Linked DNA regions of Homo sapiens: region 2 is linked to region 1. Evidence: fine-mapped expression QTL. A gene starts in region 1. The other region holds a variant in brackets. All regions are shown on one strand. Distances are from middle to middle.

Region 1 (5,390 bases):
ATTAAGTAACATAATATATTTGAAGCTCTTTGGCTGGGTATGGTGTCTCATGCCTATAATCCCAGCACTTTGGGAGGCCAAGGCAGGAGGATCGCTTGAGGCCAGGAGTTCAAGACCAGCCTAGGTAACATAGTGAGACCCCCATCTCTATTTAAAGATGATGATGATAGATAGATGATGATAGATAGATAGATAGATAGATAGATAGATAGATAGATAGATAGATAGATAGATGGATAGATAGATAGATGACAGAGATGATAGATAGATTTCAAGCTTTGTCACACAGCCTGACAATTCATTTTTCTTGGGTAAATACCCATTTCTCTTTGGGTAAATACTTAGGAAATGGGTAAATATTTACCCATTTCTCTTGGGTAAATATTTAGGAGTATTTACCCATTTCTCTTGGGAGTATTTACCCGAGAGAAATGAAGGCATATGCCACCCAAAAACCTGTACACAATTTTTTAGCAGTTTTATTTATTATTGCCAAGAACTGGAAATAACCCAAATGTTCATCAACTGTTGAATGACCAAGCAAAATGTGATGTAGCTATACTATGGAATACCTCTCAGCAATAAAAACGAACAAACAACCAATAGACACAACAACATCAATGAACTTCAAAAGCATCTTGCTCAGTGAAAGAAGCCAGGCTCAAAGGTTACATATTTTAGGATTCTACTTATATGGCATTCTGGAAAAGGTAAAACTAGAAGGACCAAAAACAGTTCAGTGTTGCCAGAGTCTAGGGGTGGAGGTAGGAGACTGACCACAAAGGGGTACAAGTAAACTTTTCGGAGTGATGAAAATATTCTGTATTTTGATTGGGTACTAGTTACATGATGGCACATATTCATCAAAACTCATAGAACTGTACACTTTAAAAGGGTGCATTTTACTCCACGTAAATTATACCTTAAAAACCTGACATTTTAAAAAATCACTGATGATATCATTATATATTGATTAAACATTTTAAAAACATCCTCATGAACAGTGTGCCTAGCACTCAGTGACATTAATGTTAGTTGTTGTTGTTGTTACCATTGACTAAGGTGACAAAAGTATAGAAAAACAAAAATAAATTAGAAATAGTTTCATTTATTATAGAACCAAGATTAGGATCTAGTCAATGTAAGGGTCCAAAACTTTCGTTGATTCTATAAATTCAATATTTTAATTTAATCAAGTAAAATGTCTTGTGTACAATGTTGCTAAACAGTAATAATCATTACAAATAGCAATTCTGTTAAACAGATGTAAGCTGAATAATTAGGGCTGTGTGTGATACCACCTCAGATGCCAGAGTGACAAAGCCTTTCAGGAGTTATCAGGCTGCTTTTCCACCTGTCAGATGTGCACATCTAGAAAATCAATTTTTATCAATGCACTCTGAGATGATAACGTTATAGGAGACTGATTTACGTTAACGAATCTTAGAAGGCACTGATGTATAAACCCGATGTACAATGTGTCACTCAACAGAATGATAACTGCCACTTGGGTCACCACAGTACTGTGCGCTGATGTGATCATCACATTTTTTCCTTGTGGGCAGGTTTAAAGGGGGAGCCGAGCATTAATCAGCTTCCTCGGTGGGCAGGGGGTCAGAATAAGGAAGAGAAGTTAGTGTTAGAGGACACACAACCCAGGTCATAGTAAAAGTTCCACAAATCATTCCTGTTCCCATAATTCACCAGATTCAATGTCTTTCTTTATTAAACAATGTGGTATAGAAACCAATATAATCTTGTTGGTAACTCTCTTTTATGTAGATTTCATGTTCCTCACTCTTTAGTCTTTCTGCAGATCTGGTACATTACCATTGAGAGAATCAGCTTTCATGATGACAGTCACTTCTGTTCCTTCCTTCCTGAGATTTTGCCTTTATTGAATTTGGTGTTCCCAAGTCTCCTCCAATGCACACTTAATAGATATCATCTGATGTTACTTCTACAGATAATCTCATCCTTTCATGGATTGCTTTTGCTAGTTTAACAATCAAAGAGTGTTTTGGTTGCCTATTGCCCCATAACAAACCACTCCCAAACTTGGTGGTGTAAAATACCACCAATCATTTTATTATTAACTCCCACAAGTTTGGGAAGTTGCCTGAGCTCACTTAGGCGGTATTCACTCAGAGTGTCTCACACACTTGCTGTCAGACAATGGTTGACACTCAAATATTCTGAATGCTTGATGCTCACGTGGCTGGCATGTGGGCTGGGACCACTCAAACAGCTGGAATTTGGAACTTCTAGGGACCCTAGGAATGCTTCTTTGTCTCTGTGTGGTCTCTTCAGCATAGCAACAGCAGCGTAGCTGAACATCTTACGGATGGCCCAGGGCTCCAAAGGCTCGTTTCCTAAGTGAGAGAGAGCCTGGCTGAAGCTGTATTACCATTCATTCTCCAGCCTCCGAAGTCTCAAAGCATCACTTCCACCATACTCTAACTGTCAAGACAAACACAAAGGCCCAGGTAGGTTCAAAAAGAGGGGGAGTAGGCTCTGCTTCTTGATGCAGATGTGGCCAGGTTCTGGAGGAGAATGTGGGACAGGAAATATTATTGCAGTTCTGGAAAACACAATCTGCCATGAAAGGCAATCTCAACTTTCAGTTATTAGAGGACTGAGGGTATTTTATTACATACTAGTCAGATGCCTATTTTCAGGAGCACTGAATACTAAATATACGGCCCCTCAGCCCTGTGAGGTAGAGTGAAAGTTACAGGAACGGCAAATGAATAAATGAAGACATCAAGATGATTTACAAATTCATAAATTTCCCACAAAATATAATATATATATAACATAATATATATATTGGGATCTCTGACTCTGATCTAAATAGACAAATGTTTTTCAAAATGATACTTTGATTTAGAAAGAAGAATACACTATCGATGTTCCTTTTAAACAAGTATTTGAGTAAAAGCGATGTTTCCAATGTGTGTCAGAAAGTGAATACTTGTATATTTCCGCACGGTTAGAGCTGAGCTTTCCGAGCAAATTTTACTGGGACCCGGTTGAAAGACAGGTCTTGGAAGTGAAATGATGACTGACTAGATGGTAAGAGATTTTCCTTCCAGGAGGTTTGTGTTTTCATTTCAAGTGGGGGATGAGACCCAAAGCCTTTGAGACATTCCAGAGGTTGTAAACTCAGAGACGGTTGTGTCTTCTTTCCTCATGGAGACATGTATTTATATTTCAAAGAGCAGCAACCCAGAATCCTCCTTTTTTTCTCAAGGAGAATTTGTTTACATTAGGTAGATTCAGTTTGCTTCTCATCCTCAGAAGGGGAAATTTTATACACGCTCCCAGGTTCATATTTTTGGGGCTTCCTCACGACAGTACCAACCCCATTACATGTAGAGTGGCCTCCAGCTCTGTTCACATCACTCCAAAGGGAAGCATTGGGAAAAAGGGCAGCTGAGGAGATTGTTACTGTGAGTAACTAACAATCTCTCAGTCCCACAAATCTCATGTCTATATAAATACAGAAATCAAAAATTTATCAATATGAAAACAGTACAAAATATACCCAAATATGTCTATTTAAGTATATTATTTTGAATTCTCTTTTTCTTGCTGATAAATTTAGTGTTGCACTGGTTTTGCTCACAGAGGAAATTAGAATTCACTGAAGTTTCTTTATGTGTACAATTAAGGGGCTTGTAATATATTCACAGAGTTTTGCAGCCATCACCAGAGTCAATTTCAGAACATTTATATTCCCCCCCAAAATAAACCCCATATCCATTACCAGTCACTCTTCATTTCTCCCCACCCAGCTCCCAGCCCCAGGCAACCACTAACCTACTTTCTGTCTCTCTAAATTCTTCTATTCTAGACATTACATGTAAATGGAATCATACAATATGTGATCTTTTGTGACTGGCTTCTTTCACTTAGCATAACGTTTTCAAGGTTTGTTCGTGTTGTAGCAGGTATCAGTACTTTATTCCTTTTTATTTCTAAGCAATATTCCATTGTACAGATGTACTGCTTCTGTGTATTCATGCATCAGTTGATGGACATTTGGGCTGTTTTCACCTTTTATTATTGTGAATAATGCTGTTGTGTTATTCATGCATGTACAAGCTTTTGTGTGGACATATGTGTTTATTTCTCTTGGGCATATACCTAGGAGTGGAATTGCTGGATCAAATGGTAAATCTATATTTAACATTTTCAGAAACTGCCAGACTGTCTTCTGAAGTGGCTATAATATTTACACTCCCATCAGCAGTGTGTAAGTATTTCAGCTTCTCTACATCCTCACCGACACTTACTATGTCTTTTTTATAGCATCATTGTATTTTTTAGTTTGAATTGTTCATATACTATCTTACTTTTATTTGTATGCATTTTGCAACTTTAGTACAAAGCACCTTCACATAAACTCTTTGTTTCAATTGGTGTGTGAGATAGATATTATTTTCTCTAAAATCAAAAGGGTTGAATGTATTGCCCCAAGTCATATAATTAATAAATGGCCTAGCCAGAATATTCTTCAGCCTAGGTCTTCTAATTCAAACCCTCAGATATTTTTCCTTTTCTACCCAAATAGTCTGATCAAGTGATCATTTCTTTGGTCTTAGAGATGTGAGAAGGGAGGAAAAAAGCAACCAGTAGTAATCATGACTATTCTCTGTCTTCACATTTTGTCATTTGAGAATCAGCTACACATTTTCACCATCTCCTTCCATTCTACCCAATATCAGAAGGAACTTGATGAGGAATTTGCCTGTTGAGTAGTCACGTTACATGGAATGATCACCTTTTCTTCCCATCTTCATTGCCCCAGTTAAAGGAAAGATCGCTTTCAGTTTCTGAATACCCATGGAAGGACATGGTTATATTATGTCATATCATTATATCTGACCCAGTTTCTAAGGATCCAGTTGCTGATATAAATCCGAGGTTGGATCTTGCTTCATACATTACCTGGCTTAAATCTTCACCCAGCTTTCCAGGGGTTTCAACTGTATTAAATTTCCCTCTTTCTCGTTCTGAGAAAATGTTCTCATGAAAAAACAACAACAACCACCTCCTAATCTCCTTCCACTATCTTTGGGAATTTTGGAGGCCTGGTCCAGCAGGGTGTCTTCTGATCTGATGTTCAGATCATCTCCAGGCTCTGCTGTTCCTAGTGACTCCATCTCTGGCACCTCCTTGCACCAGTTGACAACTGCTCCAATCCTACCTTCTGTTTCTGGAGCTGCTTCTTCCCTCTGCTAGGCTTCAAAGGACCTTCTCCCACTCATCTGAGAAGGTTTGCATATGGTCCCAAAGTCTGTGCTTCTTAGGGTTCCACATTCTCTATTTTGCTGCCACCAGGGAAGATTTAAGGCAAGGTATCCCAGAGATGAACCAGGAAGCTA
Region 2 (5,390 bases), 35 kb after region 1:
CATGATTACAGTGTTAGTAATTTTATTGATTATAAATAGCACTAATGCTGTAATACATTAGCAAAGACACAGCATTAGGGAGACATGGTCCATACTCACTTGGAGAGTTGCACCTTTGAGGATGATTGTTTAAACCATCCTGGAAAGCATTATCCTTACATGGCCCCGGTTTCCAGTCACTCCAGTGAAGGTTTCCTTTAAACACTACCGCCATTCTCCCTGCTCAGTGTTTCTGTGGCCTTCTCAGATGTCCTTCATGCAGTCTAGGCTGTGCTTTGTATTCAAAAGAGAATCCCTTGATAGTATATGGACCCAGTAATGTCCTAGTTTCTTGAATTTGCTAAAAGCAGGGGCATTAGATTGTGAAAGCCCACTACAGCCATTTCTATTTTAACAGTGATACATCTTCCTTTTGGCAAGAGTACTATTGAGTGAATTCGTACAGTCTTGGGCCCTTCCATGTTTATTTAAAGATTGTATTTTCTGAGGGAGGAGGACAAAGGGCACAATTGGGACTTTACTCAAAACACCCACATATCATAGAGGGAATCTACATTTACTGTTTAATTTTAGTTTTCAAAATTTATTGCAAAGAGTCACCTGGATAAAGAGAAATCCCCCCACAGAACAATGTCTTTCTGCCTTCTCCAAAGCACACTCCCTTTTCTGAGGAGTGATGCTTTCACTTAAAATGGTGTATATTGATTAAAGTCAACATATTTCCTGTTTTTTAGGTGTCTGCTGGGTTCTTGGGAGCATTTTTTTTTTTTTTTTTTTTTTTTTTTTGAGACGGAGTCTGCTCTGTCGCCCAGGCTGGAGTGCAGTGGCGGGATCTCGGCTCACTGCAAGCTCCGCCTCCCGGGTTCACGCCATTCTCCTGCCTCAGCCTCCCAAGTAGCTGGGACTACAGGCGCCCGCCACTACGCCCGGCTAATTTTTTTTGTATTTTTAGTAGAGACGGGGTTTCACCGTTTTAGCCGGGATGGTCTCGATCTCCTGACCTCGTGATCCGCCCGCCTCGGCCTCCCAAAGTGCTGGGATTACAGGCGTGAGCCACAGCGCCCGGCCGCATTTTTTTTTTTAACATAAGCCTTTCTTTATTGATTCAGAACTAGAAAACATTTTAATATAGTGGTAACATTTAGTCACAATGGGGAGTGTGCTTTTGGCAATTCCCTGGTTAATGGCATGAATGTCTGTGTCTGTATGTGTGTATAGAAATCCATTAGACTCATTTTAAGGTGGTTTTTTAAAAAACACTAAAATATGTAAATATCCTGATGATTGAGACTACAGGTTGATATTTTATAATGTTGTTTTCTGTTCACATTCAGATACAGTGAACCCACATGTTGAAGCTTTCTAGTATAATAAAAATTTCAACTGTTCTGTTGAATCATCTGCCTGATTGGAGGCTACAGAAAAGATGTCATCTTAGGTAAGGACTGAAGGGTAAATGACTGTAAAACATGATTTAAAAAGACACTAAATGTAAGAAAGCCTTAGCCCAACTTTTACTTCAAAATTCCTATTGATTTGTTATATCAGGAAGAGTCTTAGAATAATTCCTTTGATTGTCCTCTAAATTTACTTCAAGTTAAATTCATGTTCTCTCGAATCTTCTCACCATTCTCAGGCTGTATGTAGACACCAAATGGGTGCAAATAATGAAACATATTCTGTAACTAGCTGCCTTGTATAGACCCAACTTAAAAGAAACAAAAAAAAAATGATGGATTTTTGGTAATGTGCTTTTATTTTAAAAGGATAAAGAAAATTCAGCCCCATCGTGGAACTTATCTGTAACATGAATTAATCTTCTTAACAAATAAAGTCAGTCCCCCTATTTTACTTGACCCTGCCCCAAAGGGAATATATAGCCTCCCAGATTACTACTGAACATTTTGAGTAGCAACAAACTTCAGATCCTTGCATATCTTAGTCTGTGTTGCAATAAAGTAAGCTTGTCCAACTCGCGGCCCATGGGATGCATGCAGCTCGGGACAGCTTTAAATGCGACCCAGCACAAATTCGTAAACTTTCTCAAAACATTATGAGTTTTGTTTTTTTTTTTGCAATTTTTTTTCGCTTATCAGCTACCATTAGTGTATTTTATGTGTGGCCCAGGGAAGCCAAAAGATTGGAAACCCCTGCGAATACCCAAGGCCAGGTAATTTCTAAAGAAAATGGGTTTATTTGGCTCACAGCTCTGTAGGCTGTACAAGCAGCACGGTGCTAGCATCTGCTTCTGGTAAGAGCTTCAGGAAGCTTCCAATCATGGCAGAAGGGGAAGGGGAGCCAGTGTGTTACATGGTGAGAGCAGAAGTGAGAGAGAGAGAAAGGAGGTGCCGGACTCTTTTCAATAACCAGATCTCACAGGAACTAAGAGTGAGAACTTAATCATGAGAAGGCCATTAAGCCATTCATGAGGGATCTGTCCCACTGGGCCAAACACCTCCTAATAGGCCCCACGTCCAACTTTGGGGATCCATTTTCAACATCAGATTTGGAGGGGACAAATACCCAAACTATATCATTGCAATGATTGTGACAAATGTCAAGTGGAGAGAGTCTGACTTCATTTTATTATAACTACTTTACATGAAAAGTCCTTTTATGAGGCCCAGAAATTTCTATGAAAAGTAAAATGTCCCCAGTGGCTCAAATGGCTGTATGGGGTTTTATGTTGAGGTATACCAGACCATGACATATTTCATATTTACTCTGATTTCATATTTACTGTAATTTCATATTTATTCTGATTGAAGATCTCATGACTTGACATAAGGATGATATTATATAGACTCAAATTCCAGAATTCTTATATGTTTCCAGAGAGAATGGGCAAAAAGCCTTCAGTTAGAGTCACATATTGCTTACTTTTTTTCTTTTTAATTCTAGGAGTGCTTGCTCTGAGTGAGGCTCATCTTCAAATCTGAATGACCACAAGGAGATTTGATTATACATGTGAACACCTCAGAAGGCACAGCCCACCCAGAAGGCAGACAGGTCAGGCTGCTTTTTCTTCATTGCTTGGATTCAATCCTCCGGGCGGCTCAGGCTCAAACATAACTTAAGCATGATTAAACTTTAGAAGAAGCTGCCAGGAAGACTGTGAAATCTTCATGCCCAAGGATCCCTAAAATTAGGAGCAACAACCACTTGGCTCAGACGGTTTATGGAGGCAAAGGTTTGGATGGGATTAGAGATTTCTAAATGTGAGTTCGTGTCCTCTGCCAGACCACCTTACTTCCACCATTCCTCAGCAAATCAAGAAAAACAGGAGAAAAGACATGCCTTTCC[A/G]TAAGTTAAATCTATTCTGTTTTAATTCTATATTATATCTGCTGTACAACTTCTTTTGTTTGTAACACCATATTGTTGCTAGTAACTGGAAATTAATTTTCACATGCCTCAGCTTAGAAAAATAAAAAGCAGCCCTGCATCAATCCCAATTTCCTTTTTAGTTTTAATGAGCCTTGAAATCCGAAATTTCGGAAACCATTGGTCTAGATAATCTTCATTCAACAAATATTCATTCAGCTGCCTGTTCTTATGTCATACAAAGGGAAAATAACTTTTTCCACAGGATTATGAAAATAATTAAATGAACTAATATTCATTGCGCATGGCACCATGTTAAGCGCTTTACATATGCAAATTATTTTATTTAATTCTTGCAAAAACCCTAAGACAAAGACAACCAACAAAAAGCATGGAGGGTGGGATTCCTGCCAGGTCACCTCTGGCATAGGCTGCCATAATTAACCTAGTTTTTACTCTGCTAAGAAAATGACTGGTGTTTGCAGGGAGGTGGCATGATAGCAGAAACACATTTTAAACTTTTTAATGTTTTGCTTTTTTCATGAAACCAAAGCTTGAGTGGTGGGATGGCTGGGCATAGTGATGCAAACAAACAAACGGTGGACGATAGAAACATCAGTGGAATTTGTTGATGTGTGAAACACCTCCAATCAGTCAGAATTCAGAGTTAATCAGAGACCACTTGTTCAGAGGCCTGATCTTTCTGGCTCAACAAGCCAATCACATTCCCCTCTGTTTCACATGATGTCTGTCTTCCGCTCCCTGATTTGTGAGAGCAATTCTGCATGTGCTGAAGAACTACAGGATATAAACAGGAATTAACAGCTAGACAACTAGCTATTGGCGATGGCTAATTATAGAATGGAGAAAAATAATACTTTGCTTTGAGCCACTTCAATCTGAATTTTGAATTCAAAATCGAGGGTAGGAATGTTATATGCCAAGGCCTCTTGGAGCTACCATCCTTAAAGCACTAAGCCCCAAACTAAGTGAGTTATCATTTTGATACTATTTTTCACAGGTAGAATGAGAACGTCTCCTGCACATTAAAATGACTTTTTGTTCTTTTTATGCAGAAACAAGACAGAGATCAGAAAGCCACTTTGGCTTAGGCACAATAAGGGAAGAAAATAACCTTTAAGTTACCAGAGTTAGTTCTCCCCCTATTAGAGGGGAGTGATTACCCTGAAGATATTCAATTAGCTCTTGCTATGGACTGAATTGTGATTTCCCCTGCCACCAAAAAAAAAAAAAAAAAAAAAAAATTCATATCGCTGAAGCCCTAATTCCTAATGTGATGCTATTTGGAGATGTGGTCTTTGGAGATCATTAGGTTTAGATAAGGTCATGACGGTGGGCCCCTCATGATGGAATTCGTTTCCTTATAGGAGGAGACAGACACTAGAGCTCACCGGCTCGCCCTCTCACTCCTACTCATCTGAGAAGGCAGCCAGCTAACCCTTCAGCCAGGAAGAGGGTCCTCATCAGAACCTGGCCGTGGTGGCATCCAGATCTTGAACCTCCGGACTCCAGACTGTGAGAAAATAAGTGTGTTGTTTAAACTACCCAGTCTACGGTGTTTTGTTACGGCGGCCGCATAACGAGCACTCCCTGTGCAGAATGAGCAGCAAATCTGTTCTCTCTCTTTCGAGTGCTCCTCTCCCACTGAATCGGCCCGTGCTGCAGGCCACACAGGACAGGAGCGATGATGCTCCTTGCTTGACCAAACTTTGGACTGTGAGCTGGTAACTCAATTGCAATGGAAAGGAGTTGTAACCAGCACTTTTTATCTGAGGTTTGAAAAAGGAAAAGAAGCTTGACCCCAAGATACCTGAGTTTTTGAGGAGTAGAGTCGGGAAAGGTCTGCATTCATGAGGCGCTGGATGCCTGTTCCACTTCTGACCCGGTGGATAGAGAGCTGCAGCTCCAGCCAGTCAAGCAAGGCGCATCATCTCTCCAATCTTATTTATGCTACCTTCATCTGCCTCAAGTTCCCTAGTGATTCTCCCACCTGCAACATACCCACCAATCTCACCCTTATGGCAGATCTCTCCCTAGACACAGGATCC

What was found.
Region 2: its variant is fine-mapped to the expression of LINC00635 in testis (GTEx, PIP above 0.99).

Annotation. Positions count from the first base shown.
Region 1 is chr3:107,874,998-107,880,387 of GRCh38, reverse strand. It overlaps LINC00635 (long intergenic non-protein coding RNA 635), which reads left to right and starts at 2,320. Exons shown (of 8, transcript NR_024276.1): 1 at 2,320-2,486; 2 at 4,202-4,258.
Region 2 is chr3:107,839,724-107,845,113 of GRCh38, reverse strand. It overlaps LINC00635 (long intergenic non-protein coding RNA 635), which reads left to right. Exons shown (of 8, transcript NR_024276.1): 6 at 1,335-1,438; 7 at 2,902-3,009; 8 at 3,095-3,452. Among named protein-coding and RNA genes, the nearest start is that of LINC00635, 36 kb to the left of the region's middle. The variant A/G (reference allele first, on the strand shown) is at 3,304.